3 separate regions of the Homo sapiens genome follow, and all the other regions are reported to be linked to region 2. Evidence: microRNA targets listed by miRTarBase, many of them from high-throughput screens and not tested one by one. Region 2 holds a microRNA gene; each other region holds the end of a gene's coding sequence. Distances are from middle to middle.
What was found. The annotated mature microRNA hsa-miR-205-5p reads UCCUUCAUUCCACCGGAGUCUG and lies in region 2 at 1,867-1,888, opposite strand. An mRNA with a match to its seed (bases 2 to 7 or 8) in the 3' UTR can be bound and repressed. Matches are read on the target gene's strand: a 7mer-m8 pairs with bases 2 to 8, a 7mer-A1 pairs with bases 2 to 7 and ends in A, and an 8mer does both.

Region 1 (5,056 bases), 200 Mb from region 2:
CCTCAGTTGAAATCACAGAAAGCATTTTGCAGTGGTAGAGCCACTCTGGACCCCACAGAAGACACCTATGGTGGGGGTGGGGGGAGAGTTCCTGCCTCTGATCGTCCCTCAGAAGAAACAGGGGGTCACCTAGGCCCTTTCCTGTTGCACAGAGGGGTCCAGCGTCACACGGCTAGTAGGTTGGTATGGTGGGTGGTATGCTATAGTAGTTTTTGAACTTAAAAAAAGAAAAATCGGTAGACTTTTCTGATATAAAACAGAAAAAAGTGGGTTAGCACAAGACACAGGTCATAAAGACCTTACTGATAAAACAGTTTGCAGTAAAGAAGCTGGCTAAAATCTACCAAAACCAATAAGGCTTATTTATTTATTTATTTATTTATTTATTTAGAGGCGGAGTTTCGCTCTTGTAGCCCAGGCTGGAGTGCAATGGTGCGATCTTGGCTCACTGCAACCTCCGCCTCCCGGGTTCAAGAGATTCTCCTGCCTCAGCCTCCCAAGTAGCTGGGACTACAGGCATGCTCCAGCACGCCTGGCTAATTTTGTATTATTATTATTATTTTTTTTAGTAGAGATGGGGTTTCTCCATGTTGGTCAGGCTGGTCTCAAATTCCCGACCTCTGGTGATCCACCCACCTCGGCCTCCCAAAGTGCTGGGATTACAGGCGTGAGCCACCGCACCCGGCCCAAGATGATTTCTTTACTGTAACCTGTAAATTCTTCTCAGTTGAAACCCTGCCTAAGAAAACTGAGCTTCTCTGCTAGAGAGGGGTGGTGCCGGGCACCCTGCCTGCCTCTCTTCACCTCTCCAAATTCCTTCCTGATCTTCTGATGAGCTTTCAACTGCATGGTGGAAGATGCCTGGGAACCAGGGGCAGGTTTCTACAGCAAAACTCAGCTCAAGTACGAAACTAATTTTTCTGTACCTTTCTGTAATGCAACACACAAAAAGCTTTAGCATCTTATTTTTTAGAGAGAGGGTCTTGCTCTTGTCACTCAGGCTGGGCAGTGGTGCAATCACAGCTCACTGCAGCCATGACCTCCCAGGGACTCAAGCAATCCTCCCACCTCAGCTTCCCGAGTAGCTGGGAGGACAGGCATGTGCCACCACACCCAGCTTTTTTTTTTTTTTTTTGAGACGGAGTCTCGCTCTGTCGCCCAGGCTGGAGTGCAGTGGCGCCATCTCGGCTCACTGCAAGCTCCGCCTCCCAGGTTCACGCCATTCTCCTGCCTCAGCCTCCCGAGTAGCTGGGACTACAGGCGCCCGCCACCACGCCCAGCTAATTTTTTGTATTTTTAGTAGAGACGCGGTTTCACCCTGTTAGCCAGGATGGTCTCGATCTCCTGACCTCATGATCCACCCGCCTCGGCCTCCCAAAGTGCTGGGATTACAGGTGTGAGCCACTGTGCCCGGCCCCAGCTAATTTTCTTGTTTTTGCAGAGACGAGTTTACACTGTATTACCCAGGCTGCTGTTGAACTCCTGGGCTCAAGAAATCCTCCTGCCTTGGCCTCTCAAAGTGCTGGGATTACAGGCATGAGCTACTGCAGTGGGCCCTTGGGATAATCCTTCAGAGGTGAATTATTCTACTGAAGATTCTGGCCAGGCACAGTGGCTCATACCTATAATCCCAGGACTTTGGGAGGCTGAGGTGGGTGGATTGCTTGAGCTCAGGAGTTCGAAACCAGCCTGGGCAACATGGTGAAACCTCTTCTCTACAAAAAATACAACAAAAATTAGCTGCGTGTGGTGGTGTGCACCTGTATTCCCAGCTACTGGGAGGGCTGAGGCAGGAGGAATGTTTGAGCCCCTGAGGTTGAGGCTGCAGTGAGCTATGATTGCATCACTGCACTCCAGCCTGGGGGACAGCGAGACCCTGTCTCAAACAAAACCACCACAAAGAAGAGATGCCAATATCTTAATGCCAGGATTATGAGGCATTTTCTTTTTTGCTCACTTCTATTTCTAGGTTTTCTACATAAATGTGTTACCTTTTGATAAGAAAACCATAGATGGCGTTACTACTGTTGCTCCCAAGTTGGGGAGAACCTCACAGCTGAGGGCGCTTGGCTCTCTGCTGCCCTCACTTGGCCTCTCCTCGCCAGGCCGGGGTAGGAGCTGAATGGGCTGCTGGAAGCCTGAGCCTCAGGTTTAAACATGATGTTCCCAACATCTTGAGGACCCGAGGTCAGTGAGCTCAGAGGCGTTTGTGGCTCCCGCTGCAGGAAGCTCCTGATGGGAAGCCGTCCCAGCCCTGCACCCTCATCTGCCCTCAGGGTCTGGTTCAGGTTGGTCCTGCCGGCCCCTGGGAGCCGGTCCCCCTGCTCACTGGCTGTGGTCCTCCTGCCCGCTGGGCACTGGGCCAGAATGACAGCCCACCTTGGTAGAGCTCCCTCTGCGTTGTGCTGTGGCTTAAGGGTCCCCATATCAGCCCCGGATGGCCGTCCTGTTACTCCCGTGTCAAACTGAAGCCAACAGAAATGCAGATCCCAGTCACCAGAAAGGTGACCCCAGAGCTTGTGCTGTGACACCCTGGCCATTCCCCATCCCCGCCGCCTCAGCATGGAGCCGTGCAGCAGCTCTAAGCCCTCTCTGAGGAAGACGAGGTCTTTTTCACAACCTGACCGTGGTCCCTGCAGCCAGGGGCAAGGACGGTCAGGGATGGCTGGTGGGCTCAGGCTTTTCTGAAGAGCTGAGCTGAGCATTTCCTGCCTGGACACCCTTCTCTGCGCAGCAAACTCTGGGGTGTCCTTCCGGCCCAGGCTCAGCCAGGCAGCGAGTCTCCTGTCCAAATCCCTAAGCCCCTCCAGGGACACTGTCTGGTCACACTGTGGCCACCCCAACCCGAGCCCCCCACTCCAGAACCCCCCGTTGAAGAGGAAAGAGAAAGTGGATGAGAGCCCCCTTAGCAGGGACCCTGCCCTACCTGGAAGGCCCGAGCTGCCCAAGCAAACGAATACAGACAGCCAGCAGGCATCATTCAAAGGCTGTATCTTTTTTGGTTTCCTTTTTTGCTTTTGTAAAGAAAAATAAGGTTGTGTTTTCTGTTTGAAACAAAACATAAAACCCCCTCCCGCTGGGCCTGTTCCCTGGCTCTGGGGGATGCTGGGACCGCAGGTCTGGGCAGGAGAGGCCAGGCTGCCCGGCTGAGAGGAGGGAGCGCCCTCAGAGCCAGAGATGGAGTGCATTTGGGAATGGAGTTTGATTAAGCAAAAAATAAAAAACCTCGACACACACACACACGCCTGCTATACAGAAATGGGGACCAAGAGGCGCTGCCTCCGAGTTGGAACCATTGCTGGCAGCTGGACTCAAAAGTCCTGATGCTGTCCTGGGGCCCCCATTCCCCACGTTTCAGGGGTAGGCAGGGCAGGAGGCGGCATCCACAGCTCTCAGGACAGGAGTCAGGGGAGAGGAGGGTGACGTCAGAGCAAGCTCCTTCCCCACATTAAAAAAAAAAGTATTAAAAAAGCACCCAAAGCTTAAAAAAAAGAATCCTCCATGGCAGGGAGAGTTGGGGGCATCCTGCTTACTAGCAAAATGCCTGACCTGGCAAAATGTGTAGAAAAATAAAATTAAACTTTATCCCTGAATGGCAGAGTGAAGACCCTTCTTCCCGCCCCACAGTGAGTCTCAGAATCCACCGAGACAGCTGATTCCTCCCCAACTGGCACCAGCACATGACCAGCAGACACACACTGCCCCAGGCCCGTGTCCCAGGCCCAGGGTGGGACAGCGGAGGGGCTCTGATAGCCACGGGTGCACGGTCCCTCCCCGCTGCCTCACAGCATTGGGAGCGCCCCTCCTCAGTGCCAGGAAGGAGCCCCAGCAGGGGAGTGGGCAAGAGAACCAGGGGAAGATGGGGTTCTCAGGGGCTCCTGGGCAGAACTAGGGGAAGATGGAGTTCTCAGGGGCTGGAGGCAGGTGCCCAGTAGGGTGGTCGAAGGGGTGCAGTCTCATCTGAGATCTGAAGGCCCCCCGCCAGCCTGCCCTGCAGTTCCATGTGCAGCTGAAGGACCAGACGTGCAGGCCTGGAAACACAGGGCGAGGTGGGCCAGGGCGCTCCGCATTCTCAGGGTAATGGGGCTGCTTCCAGGAAGGTCAACAGAGGTCACAAAGCAGGGCACATGGGGCAGGGGAGGGTGGGGCAGGGGCTCGCGCTGGTCCTGGAGGCCCAGCTGGGCCTTTGGCTGCTCAGACCTGGGAGCTCTGAGGATCCCGGGAGCCCTTCTGCCCACTCCACAGGAAGGGGCAAGATAGGGCAGATGATAAGGACCATGCTTCCCCCTCCCCCAGGGGGCCTTCAGCTTAGTGGGGCTCTGAGGTTGCCCCAGGTGAGACAGGGGAGTACAGTACAAAGATGTGACTACGCCTGTGGGCGTGGGGCCAGAAGGCAGGCCGGGCAGCTCCTGCTGCAGTTACAGTAGTACTGGCGTCCCTGCCAGGCAGGGCTGAACTGTGTGGGGCACCCCAGGGTCATGCAGCCCCTTGGGGCTCCCTGGCTTCGGGATCAGAGTGTCAGCACCAAACACAACCGATGTCAGCCAAGGAGGTGAGTGGGCAGAGAGTGTGACCTCAGACACATGCTCAGCCCTGCAGTCCGTTAGGTGAGGAGGGGCAGGTGTCCTGAGGACAGTCACAGTCCAGTGAGGTCAAGGCCCTGGAGATGAGGGCAGAGGTGGCAGCCCCTCCAGGGAGGGTCCTGAGGCCGGCAGTGGTGAAGCAGCAGGCACCGGGTTGCTCCCCTCCGAGGGGCTCCAACGGTGGGTCAGCGCAGGCTCTGGTACAGAAACACCGAGGTGAACAGGGCGTTGGCGGCCAAGCTCACGGCCAGGAGGCCCCGGACCAGGGAAGGGCCGAAACGACCTGCAAAGCAGAGACCTGGTCAGAACATTGTTTGGGTGGGTGGGTTCGCTGTGCAGCTGAGCAGCCCCCTAGAGCATGCAGTTTGTGGGGAGCTCAAGGCTCTGCCCAGGGTACTCTCTGAGACTGGTGAGGCTCACCCCCAATTCTTCTCTTGGCCAAAGGCTTCCCTAGCAGGAAAGACCCCCACTCC
Region 2 (5,069 bases):
GTTCCTGCCTCCACCTGGGCCAGGTGGCACATAAATACACAAGCACTTATCTCCTATAAAAAGATTCCAGGTCATAGGGCTCAAACCAAGCTGCAAATAAAAGTGCCACATCGTGTCTGTCGTGTGCTTTTTGTTCTGATCTCAGGGCTTGTTTCAGACCTTGAATGGGAGGTGTTTGCTGGTTAACTAGGAGTTTGCTGGACAAACAGCACCCCACAGTTGGATTTGCTACGCAATTTTTATGAGTAAACATGTTTTTAAAAAATGCCTGTGGCTTGGCTTCTTCATCCTTTTGTTGCCTGTGGGTCTTGGAATGAAGGGGTGGGGGTGACAGAAACTAGGTTTTAAATCTGTATTAACTTGACACAGAAAAATATTTTGGAGAAAGGTTTATTCCTTTTAGTTCCTGCTGGCAATCTGGGACCCTCAGGGGTCAAAAACCAGGGAAGGGTTGGGGGAAGGTGAAGAGACCTATCCCCCTCAGAGGTCACTGGCTGGGGGGCAGGGCTTGGCCATTCAAGTGATCGGTATCCATCTGCAAAGCTGGAATCTCCTTTAGAGTGAGCTCCTAAGAAAAACACCACTCAGCCAAGGAGAGCTATTGTATTTTGCTGCCTGGGGCACATTCTGGAGGTGAAAACCGGTTTTTCTGAAGACTTGTCAGGGCCAGGCTTTGTTCAGAATCTGCCAATTTAGCCAGACTGGCTCCTTAAAGGAGACCCCTTTACCTGAGGCAGGGGCCAATTATAAAAAAGGCTTGTGGATGGCATTCCCTTCATAACTGGGTTGGACTTCCTTCAGACTTAGGAACTTTCTCTTGTTCCACACCTTCTCCTTCCTTAAAAAGGAGAAACATGGAGTAACACACACACACACACACACACACACACACACACACACGCACACCCAATCACACTGAATTGTAAAGAGAATGAAATCAGTGCTAAATCTATCAAAGCGTATCATAGACCCTGACAGCTGAGAGGTATTATTTGCTTTTTTCCTCCCAGATTTCTACCGAGCCTGGTGTTTTAAGCTATGTCTTGGGGAGAAGAGACCCATAGAAAGGCAATTACAATTGGTGAATGATTAATGTTGGATCTGACATTTTTATGTGTCAAATATGTTTAACTGCATTAACCTTTGCAGAATCTACACCCATACTATGAGATATATCTTGTATAGCATCGGAAATATCTGCAATCTGCCTTCACTTAAATTTTATTTACATTTACTTTATTACAATATAAATAGGTTTAAAAAATCTTTAATAGAGTGTTTTTACCCCATTCTGCAAGTTCTGCTTGCTCTGTGGGGAGTCTAAGGGCAGCAGGGTTCCTTGCTGATTGCAAATAGTGTCCCAGCCACCTGCCTGGGGACCCTAAAGAGAGAGGAAGCCAGTGTCAATTTTTCAAGTTCATGTCTCAGTTTTAGCCTAAAGGGGAGGTGGCTTAGAAGGCCGGGAGTTGGCATCCGATGGTATAAAACATAGAGGCAGAGAGGCTTTTCAGTAGACAAGCAACTTTTAGTTTTTACAAGTTACAGAAAACGCAAATTTTCATAGCATCAATTTTAGAAAAGAAAGATTAAGGTTCCCATCTGCGGTGCTTTTTCCAATCTGCCCATCACCCGTCCCTCTGAAGAAGCACGCACACTCCAGATGTCTCCTTCATTGATCACATTTCTCTCTGGCTGTCTCTATTCCTAAGTCAGAGTTACTCTTGCTGCTGCTGCTGCTGCTGCTGCTGCTGCTGCTGCTGCTACGGTGGTGGCGGCGGCGGTGGTGGCGGTGGCTGCCGAGGCCTCATGGTTGTCAGCTCCATGCCTCCTGAACTTCACTCCACTGAAATCTGGTTGGGTATGAGACAGACTCCGGTGGAATGAAGGACAAGAGAAGCACATGGATTGTCTGAGGATCTTTTTCTCAGAGGGTGGGGATGCATGTCAACCTCAGCCTGTAGACACTGCATTACCTGGCCAAAGGCCTTTGGCATCCCGGAATCACACATTTGGGAGATGTCAAGGACCTGAATACTCCTACCCCTCCCATAGGATCACATCCTCCAAGGAGGCTGCAGAGAGCTAGTTCAACACGTCCTTGCACCTGCTGCACAGACAGACAGTGCTGAGTTGGGGAGGTGGGTCTGTGGGGCCAGGGACTCTTGACTGTTTCTCGTTTTCAAAACAGCCACCCAGATAAGTCCATGTGGAACCTCCTCTGTGTTTACCTAGTTGGGATGTCGGTCACCCTCTCCCTTTGTCTAGGTCCCACTGTGTGTGCCATAACTGAGCTCGGTGTGGTTGGTCCTTTCTAGAGGAAACAAAGAAAAAGCAGGTGTTCTGCAATTGCTTTAGAAAAATCCAGCTACTCTGAGCTTGCTTACCAAGGCCTTGGAATGCAGGGGCATGGGCATTCCTCTCCACAAGGCACTGTCCAAAGAGCACGAAGAGCACTTTGCAACCCCGTTTGCCAATGTGAAATCCAGAAGAGATAGGTGAGGAGCTCAGGAAAAACCACAACTCCTGGCTGGAGCCAGGCCCATTCATGGGGGTGGGTGGACAGAGGAGGGTAAGACTCCTTGTTCTCACTCCTAAAGACTTATCTAGGAAGGACAGCCTCCAATGGCCCCACATCCTCCCCAAGATGTGCCTGGAAAATGATTCAACTATTTCTTTGTTGGTCATGAGGATGGAGGATTTAGGGAGGAAGAAAGCAAGCTAACCTGGCTTTCATAGACTGAGTCAAATAGGAAGGACGCAAAGTATCTAAGAGTTTTCTGCTCTGTCTTAAAAGAAATGCCCATCAACCCTTTGCGTGCTGTTGCTGCTCTGGCCTCTTCCTTGTTGTGTTCAGACATGCCCATGGCTCAGTGCAAGCCCCATAAAAGGCTGTTCTCAGCACCAACATGCAGGCTGGATGGGTTGGGGCAGATGCACCTTGTTGTTTGAAATACTTTCTTCCTGGGGCTTGTTCTGACCCGAAGCAGGGAGGCAGTTTCTCGTATGTGGCTCCTCCCCACGCATCTAGCCTTCTGGGCATTGGGTCTCTCTGAAAAAGGCCCTTAAGCAAGGGCTTGAGGTTTCTAGCTAGTGCTGAGAAGGAGTCACACTCTCCTTGGTCTGAATGTAAAGACTCTTTGCCAGGGTGAACACGGGGCTTGTTGGCAGGCAGAGATCTGGGTAGTGAGGGGAAGAAGACTGGTTCATCTTCTCCTGCTCTGCCTTCTTGATAAACACTCACAGTTCTCAATAATGAGAGGAAAATGCACCCTGCTTGTGAATTATCTGGACCAGATCCTCCTCCTGCACCGCCTTTGACCCATTCCCAGTCAAAGGGAAGAAAGAGGCCAGTCTGTTGGCTGTAATAAATAAATGATGGCCTGGGATGGTAGGAGGAAATGATGCCAGGAAGGCAAGATTCTTTGCCTTCTCTTTAGATTTCTGCTTAACTCCAAGAGCAAAAGGGGCAGTCAATTCTTCTCCCTCCAGACCCTCGGCACCCCGCTCTTCCCCTCCCAACATGTACAGTCCACTAGATTATTAAAGTCCTCACTCTGGAGTGTGCAGAGAGCCTCACCCTCATGTGGGGTCCGTACCCTCCAAGATGGGTACTTGAGAGATGACAGTGTCTGCAAAAAGCAAATGGGAGGTGGCATTAATGTCAGAGAGCCCCAGAAAGGTGAGTTCTTTCCTTATCACTCTCCCCTTGCTTTACAGACCTGTAGCTGCTACAGGCAGAGACAAAAAACCATGAGTCACAACCTGTATCAGGAGACTTGACCTGCTCTGGACTCCTTGTTCAAGATTCTTCTGCCCACTATGCCTTTGCCAACTGAATCCCCCAGTGGCCTTCACCATGGTTACATGGGTCTAGAGCCAAGCACATGCACGATCAGAGAACAAACCATGCATGGGCTCGCTACAGGGTAAGTCCATCCAGTGACCACTTTCTTCCCCCCAGCTGCCCTCAGGATTACGTCCCAAGTGTCTTCATAACATTAAAACCAACTTGAACATGAGACTCAAAGAATGAAACCACGTCCTAAATTTTCCAGTACAGGTGCACCCTGCACCCCAGGACTGAAAAACCAGCCAAATCTCTGTTCTTCTAGTTGAGTAAATCTCCACAAAACCAGACAGAGCTACAATCTTGGTGCTTAAACTGCTCAGCACCCACCTTATCACACCAATTCCTATTATCAGCAGAATTTACTGCCTGGGATCCCTGGAAATCCTTGAGAAAACACCAAAGTGGCTGAGGATTGGTTTAAAATGCAGCAGGTTCAGCTATTTTAGCCTTGGAGGAAGTTGATAATTGACTTGCAGTGAATATGGCATTTTCCAGTCTCCTCTTCCTGCCCAATGAGCCCCCTGATCTAGCCACTCATCTTTGTTTTTCCAAAGTTCCCCAAATCCACAGATTTCAGACTCACCTTTAAGTACGAGTACCTGTGCCTTGAGACATCAGGACCTAGCTTTGAGTTTGCTTCAAAATAAGAATTTTTTTTTTTTGTCATAAGATAATGCAGAACAGAGAGATGGCTACAGCCATGCAGATGAGAAGAAGAAAAGAAATTTCAAATCTTGGATGTTTCTTTTGCCCCTAAGGCTTGAGGACAGGGAACAAAAAATGAGAAACACTTACCCTATATAAAGCACCCAGTTCAGCAGGCCTGTGCGGAACAGAAATGACTCCTGAGGAAAGGTGGGGGCCGGTCCTGAATAGTTGATTTCTCTCTTTAATGAAAAAGAACATGAGGCCGGATGCGGTGGCTCACGCCTGTGATCCCAACACTTTGGGAGGCCGAGGCAGGTGGATTGCTTAAGCTCAGGAGTTCAAGACCAGTCTGGGCAACATGGTGAAACCCCGCCTCTACAAAAAAATACAAAAAATTAGTCAGGCGTGGTGGTGTGCGCTTGTAGTCCCAGCTACTTGAGGGGCTGAGGCAGGAGAATCGCTTGAACCTGGGAGGTTGAGGCTGCAGTGAGCCCAAGATTGAGCCACTGCACTCCTGCCCGGGCGACAAAGTGAGACCCTGTCAGAAAAAAAAAAAAAGTAAGCAGAGGAA
Region 3 (5,056 bases), not on the chromosome of region 2:
TTTTTTTTTTTGAGATGGAGTCTCACTCTGTCGTCCAGGCTGGAGTGCAGTGGCACGATCTCAGCTCACTGCAAGCTCCACGTCCCGGGTTCATGCCATTCTCCTGCCTCAGTCTCCCGAGTAGCTGGGACTACAGGCGCCCACCACCACGCCCGGCTAATTTTTTGTATTTTTAGTATTTTAGTGTTTTAATTTTTTGTATTTTTGTATTGTTAGCCAGGATGGTCTCGATCTCCTGACCTCGTGATCTGCCCGCCTCCCAAAGTGCTGGGATTATAGGCGTTAGCCACTGTGCCCGGCCTGGGATGCACTCATTTCTTTAACACAGACTCACTTGGCACTAGCATAGTTACATGCCCCGCTCTGGGCTAGGCTTTGATGGTGCAAAGACAGACGTGGTCCCTGCCCTAATGGAGCTTACAGTCTAGTGGAGAGACAGGTAGTAAACAAGTAAATGATCTGAAATTGTGGTGATGCTAGGATGGCTGCAAGCGAGGAGGGGGGCAATGGAGACAAGGATTTAGAAAGGGAAAGGCTTCTCTGAGGAAGTAGGATTTAAGCTGAGACCCAGGAGATGGGAGCCTGTTTTCAACATGAAGATGGGGAGCCAAAGTGTTTCCAGCACAAGGAACTGTGTGTGCAGAAGCCCAGAGGAAGGAAGCCTGGTCCCTGAGGAGCTGGAGGCAGCCAGGGGCCTGGAGAGTCACCTGAGACTTCCATAGGGCTCTGGAAGGCAAGGTGAGATGTCTGGGCTTTGTGTGGAAGATGACAAGAATCTCTGACGTAGAGAAGGGACAGGACTGGAGGGAGGCCTAATGAAGATTGCACTTGGCTGCTGAGCAGTGGCAGGGAGGCGGGCACTATAGCAGCCACAATGCCTGGGCTGGGGCTGGTGGGGAAGGAAAGTGGACAGACTCAGGCTCTCCTCTGGAGGTGTAACCCTGGACTGCCTCTGGACCAGTTTGGGGAAAGGGGAACTCTAGAATGTGACATTCATGCATACACACAAATGGACTGTGTGATGTCCAGCTCCAGGGGCAGGGGGGCCACGCCCCGTTCCCTGCCTTGCTCAGCGTCCATCCATGGCTGTTCTGTGCAGGGTACATAGCATCCAGGATGCAGCATTAGCCCTGATCAAGGTTATGCTTCCCATGTGCTGGACCACAGGGCCTGTTAGGGCAAGCTGGGGCCTCCTTGTTTAATTCACGACAGGAGGAAGAGCTGGGTATAGGGACTCCACTGTCAAAAGCCCTGCCAACCAATGACACAAGCCAGCAAGGCAACCCCCTTGGCACAAAGAGACAGTGGGCAACCACGGGCCTGCAGAAGGACTTTTCCCCTCCGCACTCCTGGCGAGGGTCAGGTACCAGATACCTCACAGGCTGGGAGGCAGGGGCGGCATCTTTTAACCCCAAGCCTTGGGTATTTTTTGCTATAAGAGACAGCTGCAGGGTCCAATCTGCTGCCTTGACCCCTCCAACTCCCAAGAGAAACCCACAGCTAGGCATGGCAGATCAACGGGCTGAGAGCCAGTGTGCTGTGCTGGCACTTAGAGACATTTCCCAATGGAATCTCAAAAGGTTGGCACTGCTATTCCTGTTTTTACAGAAGAAACCGAAGTACAGAGACATGGAGTAGTCTGATCTTAGTCACACAGCACCTATCATATCACTCTGTCAGAACATGGCGCACTAGGAGGCAGACACACACGCACATTCGCTGTCTGTTCCCTGCCTTGTCAGGGCACCCAATAATGGTGGCTCTCTGTCCCCAGCATGGGGCCCAAGATGAGTCCTCCTTTAGTCAGAGGTGTGATTCTATCCCCAGTCACCAGGGCTTCTACCACAAATGAAGGACGGTGACCACCCTCAATGTCACTGCTGAACTGGGAAACCAGGAAAAGCTATATGCCTTGTGGGAACAGCACATAAAAAACATTTCAGATGGACAGGACTGGATGCAGTGAGTCCATCCTCTCCCTCCAAGAGCTGAATGGAATGGTTCAACCTCAATGGACCTGAGACGACTCTCTTCAATGGGTGAGGCCACTTCATCACTGTGCTTCAACCCAGAAGGATGAAGCTCATTGTTCTGTTCAAGAGTTGGCCGGGCGCCGTGGCTCACGCCTGTAATCCCGGCACTTTGAGAGGTCAAGGCGGGAAGATCACTTGATGTCAGGAGTTCAAGGCCAGCCTGGGCAACATGGTGAAACCCCATCTCTACAAAAAATACAAAAATTAGCTGGGCGTGGTGGTGCACACCTGTAGTCCCAGCTACTCGGGAGGGCTGAGGCGGGAGAATCGCCTGAACCCCAGAGATGGAGGTTGCAGTGAGCCGAGATCGTGCCCCTGTACTCCAGCCTGGGCGACAAAGTGAGAATCCGTCTCCAAAAAAAAAAAAAAAAAGAGTCAAGGGCCCTGACAGCTAGGAAGGAAGGCCCAAGAATGACTAGAGAGGAACAGATGAACAAAATCCCCAGGAGATTTGTCCACCAGGCCCAGGGCCTGAACTTTCTTTTTCTCAAACACAGATGCAATTCCAGGACAAAAACAAAAAACACTTAAGCTCTTTCCTTAACCAGGTCTTCTAGGACACATTCCAGGAATACGCATCGTGGTCCCCTACAGAACTTGACTCTAACCATCTTGGCCTGTGCTGGCACAGGGGTGACAATGGGAAGGCACAGTGACACCCTCAGGAGCGTAGGGACATGCAGGAGGGCCAACAGAAACAGTCCTTTCAAAACCACGCAATGCAATGGCTGCCTTGTCCTAAGGGCTAATCCCAGGAAAAGGAGCAGGCAGTGCTGCCCAGCAGGTTCTGGAAAACCAGCAGCCACTCGCTGATGGTGGCAATGTACTCCAAGTCCAAGAGGCTTCATTTGCTCATCTGGTTCCTCTGACCCAGGAACACATGGAATGGCTTCCACCCACCTCCCCACTTTGCTCTGATCCCTTCACTGCCAGCCCTACTCCCCGGAAGAGGAAAGAGAAAGGCACCACACTCAACGCTCTATCAAGAAGGCACTCAGCAGCCCCCACTTGACTTCTCAAATGGCGTGGCAGCCGAGGGGCCTTCTCCGGAAATTAGTAGTGGTAACAAGGAGGAGGGCACGTTCCAGAAGGTGGTCAGGCACATGGTGGTGCCGGAAGGGACACGTCTAGCGTAGCTGTGTGAGTCAAACTCCTGAGGTCGACACAGAAGTCCTCCCATTTGAGAGAAATGACCCCTCAATGAATATTTCTGAGACAACTAGTCCTCCTGCCCCATCCTGTAGCAGCAAGTGCCACAAGGTACATTTTGGTTTTTCTTTTCTTTACAACCTATTTCCCTTCATGCCTCAGTGACGCAGGGAGGGTGAAGGAGCAGCATGGAGCTCAGAGGCCTGCAGCTTCTAGAGACCCCAAGTCCTATCATCCTGTTTTCACAGATGCCTGCCAAGAGGGCCGTGACCACAATAATCCCACACAAACTCACAGCAAGCACAACTCAATCACAAGAATTTTTTTTCTTTTTTTGAGACAGGGTCTCACTGTGGCCCAGGCTGGAATGTAGCGGCACGATCATGGCTCACTGCAGCCTCAACCTCCAGGTTTGATCAAGTGATCCTCCCAGCTCAGCCTCCTGAGTAGATGGGACTAAAGGCATGTACCACCACGCACGGCTAATTTTTTTTTTTTTTTTTAATGTAGACACAGGGTCTCACTGTTGCCCAGGCTGGTCTTGAACTCCTGGGCTTAGGCGATCCTTCTGCCTCAGCCTCCCAAAGTGCTGGCATTACAGGTATGAGCCACCATGCCCAGCCTCGAGATTTTTAAGAGTAAAATTAAATCAGATGCTAGAGTCTACTAAATCTTTGAGGATTTTTCTTTCCTTTGTACTTCTGCAAAAAGGAATCCTTCATAATACTGGAAAAAAAAGATTTCTAATAACAAAACCCAAGAGTTCTGTTGTTTTCAAAGGAAAACACACCATAAGCTTTACAGAAATGTAGTAAATTAAAAAGAAGAGACCTTTGACTGGAACCCTTTCTGAGACGGGGGAAAGAGCAGGGGCTACTGGCAAGAGATGCCCTGCCCAAGAAAGAGACCTAAAAGCCTGTTGTGTCCACTCACAAGGCCACCCCTGGCCAGCTGTGCCCTGAAGGGCTGCCTTCAGGAACAGTCACCCTGCACCCCATTGGCAGTGGACAGTTTAGAAGCCCCCACTCCTTTCCACAGATAATCTGGGGAGCTAAGTAACCAATGGAAGAACACTGCATCCACCTGGCGTTGTCATCCACAGGATGAAATGCTGGTGGCAGAGCATAGAGCGAGCAGGAGGGCAGAGGCAACGACGCCTGCTGGGAGCCGGGCAGGATGCAGGGAGCCCGGTGGCCCCGACTCACCTGTGCTTGCTGTCCTTTCCATTCCCACGAGCACACTGCCCCCCTCACCCCCGCTCCGACTGCTCTGTGCTGAGGCTGCCTTTCGCGGTCTTGTTCTGCAAGGGGGGGAGAGGGCACGGAAGGGGAGGCTGACACGGGCAAAACCAAGAGGAGACAGACAGGTGGGAGAGGACAGTGCAGAAATCAGGGAGGGCAAAGGGAGGACAGGAGTGGCACATGGAAAAGGAAAGAAAAGGCAGAGTCAGTCCTGACCGACAAACAGGAGACATTCAGACAGGGTTTTCTGAGGCAAAATGTGACCCTTAAAAAGGGGAGTTCTAAAAATAACATGCAAATTAAGTAAAAATAAAGAGAATATAAGATCCTGTGACCACTCCCCGCCCTTCCCCAGAAATAATTTTTAAAGAAAAGCATAAGCAAGCATCTTTCAGGAGCATTTTGAGGGCAGACCTCTCTGGACAACCTCCTTCTAGTACTTTCGGCCCTACTAGATTTAAGACTGCGAGTGACCAGTGACCACCAGGTGTCAGTGTGACCTCAGCCAGAGACACAGTGCAGCCCCTGCAGGAAACATCAGGTGGCAGTGGTCTCCGTTCTGATCCTTTCTTGGGGCTCCTTCTCCATATACACCCTCCCCACACACATATGTGGTATCCACAAACAGACCAT

Region 1: the mRNA of TMEM201 is a reported target of hsa-miR-205-5p. The part of its 3' UTR that is shown has no 7-base or 8-base seed match.
Region 3: the mRNA of TCF20 is a reported target of hsa-miR-205-5p. The part of its 3' UTR that is shown has no 7-base or 8-base seed match.

The regions. Positions count from the first base shown.
Region 1 is chr1:9,612,796-9,617,851 of GRCh38, reverse strand. It overlaps TMEM201 (transmembrane protein 201), which reads right to left. Exons shown (of 11, transcript NM_001130924.3): 11 at 2,975-4,866. The coding sequence ends at 4,769. LOC124903837 reads right to left here and starts at 3,188. Exons shown (of 2, transcript XM_047436734.1): 1 at 2,380-3,188. The coding sequence starts at 3,188. RefSeq lists enhancers at 1,814-1,873, 1,883-2,427.
Region 2 is chr1:209,428,985-209,434,053 of GRCh38, reverse strand. It overlaps MIR205 (microRNA 205), which reads right to left and starts at 1,921; the gene lies at 1,812-1,921. MIR205HG (MIR205 host gene) reads right to left here. Exons shown (of 4, transcript NR_145437.1): 1 at 4,966-5,069; 2 at 4,646-4,873; 3 at 3,578-3,629; 4 at 1,505-1,850. RefSeq lists enhancers at 1-482, 483-1,080.
Region 3 is chr22:42,164,222-42,169,277 of GRCh38, forward strand. TCF20 (transcription factor 20) reads right to left here. Exons shown (of 6, transcript NM_001378418.1): 5 at 4,388-4,515. The coding sequence ends at 4,432. Among named protein-coding and RNA genes, the nearest start is that of CYP2D6, 36 kb to the left of the region's middle.